Linked DNA regions of Homo sapiens. The protein of the gene in region 1 interacts with the protein of each later gene in a pairwise test. Each region holds a gene or a part of one and is shown on either strand. Other genes may lie near its edges.

The links. Proteins that work in one complex are often made in the same cells at the same time.
Region 2: the proteins of SH2D1B (region 1) and GAB1 interact in binary tests that used the Homo sapiens proteins (3 or more experiments, as listed by UniProt).

The regions. Positions count from the first base shown.
Region 1 is NC_000001.11:162,405,394-162,409,148, reverse strand, and holds part of SH2D1B (SH2 domain-containing protein 1B), read left to right. Parts: intron 1-3,755. UniProt on the Homo sapiens protein: Cytoplasmic adapter regulating receptors of the signaling lymphocytic activation molecule (SLAM) family such as CD84, SLAMF1, LY9 and CD244. In SLAM signaling seems to cooperate with SH2D1A/SAP.
Region 2 is NC_000004.12:143,409,721-143,413,475, forward strand, and holds part of GAB1 (GRB2-associated-binding protein 1), read left to right. Parts: intron 1-3,755. UniProt on the Homo sapiens protein: Adapter protein that plays a role in intracellular signaling cascades triggered by activated receptor-type kinases. Plays a role in FGFR1 signaling. Probably involved in signaling by the epidermal growth factor receptor (EGFR) and the insulin receptor (INSR).

The sequences.
Region 1 (3,755 bases):
ATGGGATTCTCTTCCTTCCTTTCTTTCTTTTTTTTTTTTTTAGACAGGGTCTCACTCCAGCTCCTAGGCTGGAGTGCAGTGGTGCGATCATGGCTCACTGCAACCTCAACCTTCTGGGTTCAAGAGATTCTCCTGTCTCAGGCCCCCTGAGTATCTGGGACTACAGGTGCGCACTACCATGCCTGGTTAATGTTTAAATTTTTTGTAGACATGGGGTCTCGCTATGTTGCCCAGGCTGATTTCGAGCTCCTGGGCTCCAGTGATCCACCCACCTCAGCCTCCCAAAGTGCTGGGATTACAGGCATGAGCCACTGCACCCAGCCTATATTGGGATTCTCTTTGAAAATTGATATTTATTCTCAACTGTTCTGTGGTGCATCAGCCCATCTTGCATATTCATCTAAAGCAAAGGTCACTAAGAGATGCTAAAAAATGGGCCAGGCGTGGTGGCTCACACCTGTATTCCCAGCACTCTGGGAGGCCGAGGCGGGCAGATCACTAGGTCAAGAGATTGAGACCATCCTGGCCAACATGGTGAAACTCTGTCTCTACTAAAAATACAAAACTAATTAGCTGGGTGTGGTGGCATGCGCCTGTAGTCCCAGCTACTCAGGAGGCTGAGGCAGGAGAATTGCTTGAACCCAGGAGGCGGAGGTTGCAGTGAGCCAAGATCGCACCACTGCACTCCAGCCGGGTTACAGAGCGAGACTTGATCTCAAAAAAAAAAAAAAAAAGAAGAGAAAAAAAGAGAAGCTAAAAAATGAAAATAAACCAAGTGGAGAGGCAAAAATAAATATTTGTTAAGCCCCTGCACATGATCAGGTCTCACCCACCTCCCTACACATGTCACTGAAAGGCAAACAACATTTCATTCACCCTCAGGCTTAAGGCTTAGGTCAAGTGACCCCTGAAGCTATCTCCTCATAGGGCCTTGTAAAAATGTATTATCATACAGATAAGTATGGACTATTAAATTCTAGTTGTTCAACAAATATTTGAATTCTCTCATATGTCAGACAGTGTGCTAGACACTCGGTTGATGCCTTCAACACAACTCAGAGCCTAGTGGGGAAAATAAAGAAGTAAACAGACACAGTGATGCATGTGATAATTATGATGATTGGACTATCATTAGGGCACTGTAGAGCTGACAGCAAAAAGGGGAGAACCAGATATTGGAGCTGAGACTTTAGGAGAATAAGTGGAACCTTCATTCATTCAACAAGCATATACTGAGCACTTATTATGTTCCATGCGTGGTCCTAAGCATTGGTAATACAGTGATAAATACTACTGGCAATGTTTCTGCCCTCATGAAGTTAATTTCAGTAAGAGGAGAAAATATGATGAAAATGAAACAGAGTCATATGACAGGGAGAGACACAGCTGCTGCTTTCCATTGGGTACAGGAAAGGTTTCTCTGAAGAGGTCACATCAACCAATTCATGCTTCAAGATACAACCCTTTGCAAGCAAAGCAAGAATTACTATTATGATACAAGTGTTAGCCTGCTTGTCTTCACTGACACAGAAAAAGTTACCATGTAGGTATTATCTATGAGCCAAACATTTTGCTAAGCATGGTACATGCATTATCTTATTTGTCATTTGCAATCCCTTTGCGGTAGGCGACATGATCACTATTTTGTGAGAAAATAAACTGTAGCTTCTTATTTAATAGCTTGCCTAGGGCCAAATTGCTAATATGTTATTACATTCCCTCTCTTACCAATGTCCCCAGCTTCACTGAAATATGTTTCAGGTAATCACCTTGGATCTGTGTTATAAAATGCCCAAGCAGGGGACCTGAGGGCTTGGGAGTGGACTCTGATATGCAGTGTCCCCTTCTTCTCTGCTGCATTAAAATGGGTCTCCCCTGGACACCCAGCTTTAAAATTTCTCTGTTTTGTACTCTTTCCCTTTATTTCTTAGACTGGCCGACACTTAGGGAGAATAGAAAAGAACCTACGTTGAAATATTGGGGGCTGGTTCCCCCGATACTTCAGGACTTTCACAGAGCTAAATATTTAGTGATGAAAATACTGTGAGGAAGGTTAGAAATAAAAGAAGGAGGTCACAGAGAGAGCTGACCTAGCAGCATATGGCACTAACCAGAAAGCTATGTGGTAACTGTGGACAGGAAATGTTTTCTGATCTTACAATGTAATAGAGTGTCTAGAAAACTCCAGTGTGTAAAAGGTTGTCTGTGTAGTGTGACTTTGTGAGTGTCTAAACTGTCTGCCTTTATCATCAGTAAAATTAAATGGAGTAGATATTAGGAGGTGCAAAGGATTCATCTGCAAGTGTGAAGAAAAGGAGGACTTTGCAAAGCCATAGGAAGGCTGCAGGTGAGGAAGACCTGAGCCCTAACCTACTGCATGCTCTCATTAAGAATAATAATGGCAATGTCTATCTATTGCCTTGAGAGTCATTTATGAGTCTCAGATTCTGAGACTTTTGCAAGGATTGTAGAGTACAGAAAGAAAAGAAATGATCCATTTTGTTGTGGTGGTTTATCAAGCTAATGAAAATTCATTTTAGAAAATCAAATATAGAGAAAGGTATAAAAAACAAAACAAACTATATCAGTCTCACCACTCTGAAATCACCATTTTTAATATTTTGGCATACATCTCTCCAGACTTCTCTGCGCATCTATAAACCAATATATGTACATAAATGGTTCATTATACATGATGGCTTGCAACCTGTTTTCTCCATAATTGTAGGTCTCTTTCCCCATCAAAGAAAGCAGGTCATCCCCTTATGACTGCTTAGTATTTTATTGATTTGATATATCATAATGTATACATATCATACATTAGGTTATTTTCAATTTTCATTTGCAATTTAGTCCAGTGGACTCAGTGTAATTTGGAATGATTAACATTTTTGTACTTACATCTGTGAAAGTTTGCCTTACTCCCTAGTTAGGATAAAATCCTAGATGTTTAAAAAAATCTTCATGCACACTGAAAAATTAGTACCACAAAAGGTTGCACCAAGATACACTGAGATCAGGAACAGTGATAAGGCCAGAGGTCAAAAGTCTTAAAATATTTCTTTGTTGACTTGGATTTCCCACTTGCATCATGGCATGGAAAAATGCAGAACACATTGTTGATATTATAGGGTGCAGTCGATTCCATTTCCTTCAGCTGACCTTTTGAAGGTTAGTTAAAATAAAAACTTGAACACAAACAAGTTTCCCCACAACAATGGCCACAACATGAGACCGTGCTAATCTGTGGGCTGTTCATGCGTTGAGCAAGGACTCAGAGATCCGTGCACAGCACCTCATGGAACGATCACTTTGAAAGCTAAATAGATAGAGTAAAACAATTCAAAGATATGGGAAAACTTAGAGGTCCTGTATTCCAGCCTTTTTGAACCTCAACTGAGAAATTAATGCCTAAGATTTTTAAATGTTTTTTATAAGTCCAGTGTATTTCTCATAAATGACGACAACGATTTCCATAGAATAAACAAAAAGGTAGGCTCCACTGGGTATCAGTCTCACACAGAGAGTCAAGACACCACATATTTATTGAGAACATAACTGCAAAAATAGGAAACACTTTTTCTATCTGAGGCCAAAAACCAATCATGAAAACAGCAAAAGCACATATGTATAAGGAATTAAAATTTAGTTTATATATTAGAAAGATAAATTATATTCATCTACCTTTTTATGCCATGAATATGTCTTACTGCTTTATTGAGGTATCACTGACATAAAATAAAAAGTGTACAATT
Region 2 (3,755 bases), on another chromosome or scaffold:
AAGAATGAATTGGGTTTGAAAGATATTTGCTAGTGGTAAATATTGTGAACAAAAATAGGAAGATAGAGACAGCATTGGCATGAGCAGAAGATATTAATATAAGAAGATGAAGAATGAGACGTAAGCTTGAAAGGACCTGTGTTTGTTTTGTTTTGTTTTGTTTTTGAAATTTTACTTTAAAGAGCAATATAATCCTATTGATTGGATCTATGGTTCTTAATCATGGTGGCACATTAGAATCATCTGTTGAGTGTTTAAACCTGCCTATTCCAATCTTCACCCCACCCCCATACACTACAATTTAGTTGGCTTAAGGTGAAACCCCAAGCTTTTTTTTTTTTTAAGCAAAGCTCTCCGGATATTTCTAATGTGCATTCAGGGCAGAGAACCCATGGACTACCCCCGACCTCTTCTCTGATCTTCTCTCTTGCCTGCCCATATATTGGCCACTTCCTCAATAATTAGCTCTTCCAGTAAAGGTACAGGGAAAAGATGAGGGAATTTTGGCAAGCATCACACCAGGCATGTGAGCTGTCATTTATACCACAGAGAACTCACAAAACAGGGTGTACAGCAGTTACAATGTTTTTCTTTAAAGCTGAAGCCATTTGCTAGTTAGGTTAATTAGGCAAAATTTGTGAATTTGTTAGTAACGTTACAGCCATATAGGCAAAATTTGTGAATTTGTTAGTAATATTACAGCCATTAATGGCTTGGGGTTAATCCAGGTTAAAAAATGTTTCCTTCCCACCAAATAGTGGGACTCCCATCTGTACTTTCTTGCCAGTATGTACATACCCATACTCTAGGGTGTGTGATAAGCCTGCCTTAAGACCTAGCTTCAGTGTGACAGTTCTACAGGTGAGCATATCCAATTTGCTAAATACAGGAAATGTTTAAAAGAATAGTTCTTTTAAAATGATGTTTAAAAACATCTCTCTTATGTCTGTAGAGTTTTAAAAACAAATTAATTTGTTTACACACCTCTATGCTTGCCTGACCAATTCTTGAATGGGCTGGGCAGATCGCAGTTATATCACTATCCCTGCAATGCATAAATAGTATGAGAACTTCTGTATTTTTAATCCTTGCCTCAAACATTTTGTATTGCGTATTTAGCAGACATTGACTGAGCACCTCCTTGGCGCTAGGCAATGGGAAAGGAAAGAAGAAAGGTTAAAATGGCTCCAGCCCTCAGTACATTCAAATGCACAGATGTCAAATGATTTAGGAAAAAGGTGGAAATGGAGAGCTCAGAGCCAACTCGGATGGTGCCCCGAAGAGGGCTGAGCTAAATCTAGGGGGTAGATTTTGTGCCAAGGGGTGAGAGGCAGGACAGAGCAGAGTGTTTGGGAAACTACAAGTATTTCCAATGTGGTTGGAAGGCAGAGGGGCAAGAAGTGACGCTGGAGAGATTTAGGGGTGGAGATGGGGCGGGAGTTGATTGGAGGGTCCTGTGTACCCTGCCAGAGTTTGGGTTTTATCCTGTAGGCACAGGGGGCAGTCACTGAGCATAGGGAATTGGCTTCAGAATTTGGTACTTTTAAGTTACCCCAAAATCCAGACTTAACTGTTGACTTCTTGTTAACAAATTATTTGTTCAACTCAAAATTGGAGTGACTATTGCATATAAGAAATGGCTACAAAATAAGTTTTTACATAGTCCTTCTCAACTATGCAGACATCTTGCAAATTTCAGCTTCTTCATTACCTGCTCGTAATGGAAGTCTAGTCGTTAAAATGATTTTTTGTGTGAATTTCTTTTAAAATTACTTTGAGTATTTGGTTTTGAAGGTTTCTAGAAAGCCTGTCCTTTTTGTCTGCTCCTGCTCTGCAGGATTGGCAAGGCAGTGTACGGCTTTCTCTGGAGCTACCAAGGCAGCAAGGATAAAAATAGGACAAACTTTAAGAATCTCAGATATTTTCAGATAACAAAGACTGATTTATGTGGGCCCGTTTTGTGCTCTGACAAAACATAGAGACGCTTTTGTGCTGTGATTAGCAAGGGTGCTGATGTCAGTTCTCTTGTCGAGCATCAAGCTTTATTCTGTGGCTAAATTGTGCTTTGTACCATAATCCAGAGAACCTTTGTATCTGCCTTATTAAAGTGTGTAGTTTATGTAATTGCTTTTGTTTTCCAGCTTAATCTGTGCCAGATTCAATGAGGGTGACTCATTTTGTGACTGAGACAAACATTCACATTTGGACCATGTTAAAAATAAATAAATAAATGGCAGGTGCTGCTTGGCTAAATTCTGTGTTTTAATGCTGTAATTTCCTGCCGTAAGGGTTCACGTCTTGTATAATGTCTACTCAGCCTCTGTAATCACTAGCCCAATATATCTAATGCACCTCAATTCATTGCTACTCATTTCTTGATTATTTATTTTAGTTCCTAAGGGCTTTTTGAATTGTAACAATGTGATTTCAACAGGGAAGCCAAGGAATGGATGGGGGGGAGCCACAGTTAGCCGGAAAACAAAGAGTGACACATAAGCTGTAGCAAAAGGACATGTTCTGTGCTTTTCTGTTTTTGCCATTTTCCCAAGATGTTTTGTGCATGTGTTTTGGTAAAGTTGTCTTAGTTATGTTTATTTTATTATGTATATGTTCAGTATTGGAGCTCTTTTTCTCAAGTGGAAGATGCTTTGAAAGCACTCTCTTCATTGTGGCCCATGTATCAAATCTAATCTCAAAAATTTTACAAGTCTACTCTCTCAGGAGAATTCTGTTTATTTATTGTACAGATATGCTATGTACTAGGCACTGTGCTATGGCAAATAAAGCAGGCGTGGTCACTATCTTCTTGAACTTTTCAGTCTGTTTGGGGAGTTACGTACTACACAAATAAATACAAAGAAAAATTGAATTGCAAAATTACACAAATCACTACGTAGGTAAGTAATAGGATCTCTAAAACTATGCTATTAGTTTACACTGGAGTTGGTTGCATTGAGGGTGGTCAGGGAAGAGAAGCCCTGAAGGTTGGAGTTGGCCAGGCAAAAAGTGAGGGAAAGAATATAATGTATTTAGGGGAAAACATGTGCAAAGTCCCTGAGGCAGGTAAGAGTTTAGCCTCCTATAAACCCTATTATTGGAGGGGGAAAAGTGACAGTTGATGGAAATTGAGAGAAAAAAGACAGGAAACTGTATTTAAAAGATGAACTATACAAGCATAGCAATATGGTACTATTTATTAATAGTATAGGGGCAAATGACACTCTATACAGTGCAACAGCCTCTGAGAGTCTCCTGAAGTGCAGTATAGAAATGGATGCTTACAATACTTAGTCTGAATCATTGGGGAATGGATTATGTTTGGTGAAGTATGTAGTAAAGCATTTTAGAAAGATTTGCGTGCAAGACAATAAAGTTTTAAAAAGTCATTTCTGTATTTAAAGATGAAGCTTCACTATCTGGAGAAATCACTTACTGAATGATATGATTTCTTGAGGGCCCTGCATAAATAACATCATATTTTATATTCTTTTGCTTTACTTCTGCATTACTTTTTAAAGCTTACTGCTTGAGAGGGAAGTATCCATAGAGGGATAATTTTACTAAGAGATGATATTTATTTATTTTGCAGTAAGTAGATGCATATTCAATGAATGGATTTTTATAGTCCAGAAAACAGTGCTAAAATCATGTGAATCCAACACTTTATGACTTTTCAATATTATCTAAAACATCTATAGGACTCTACCCTGCCTTCCCTGGACACAAATTATATACTTATTCCTTTGAGCTGCGTG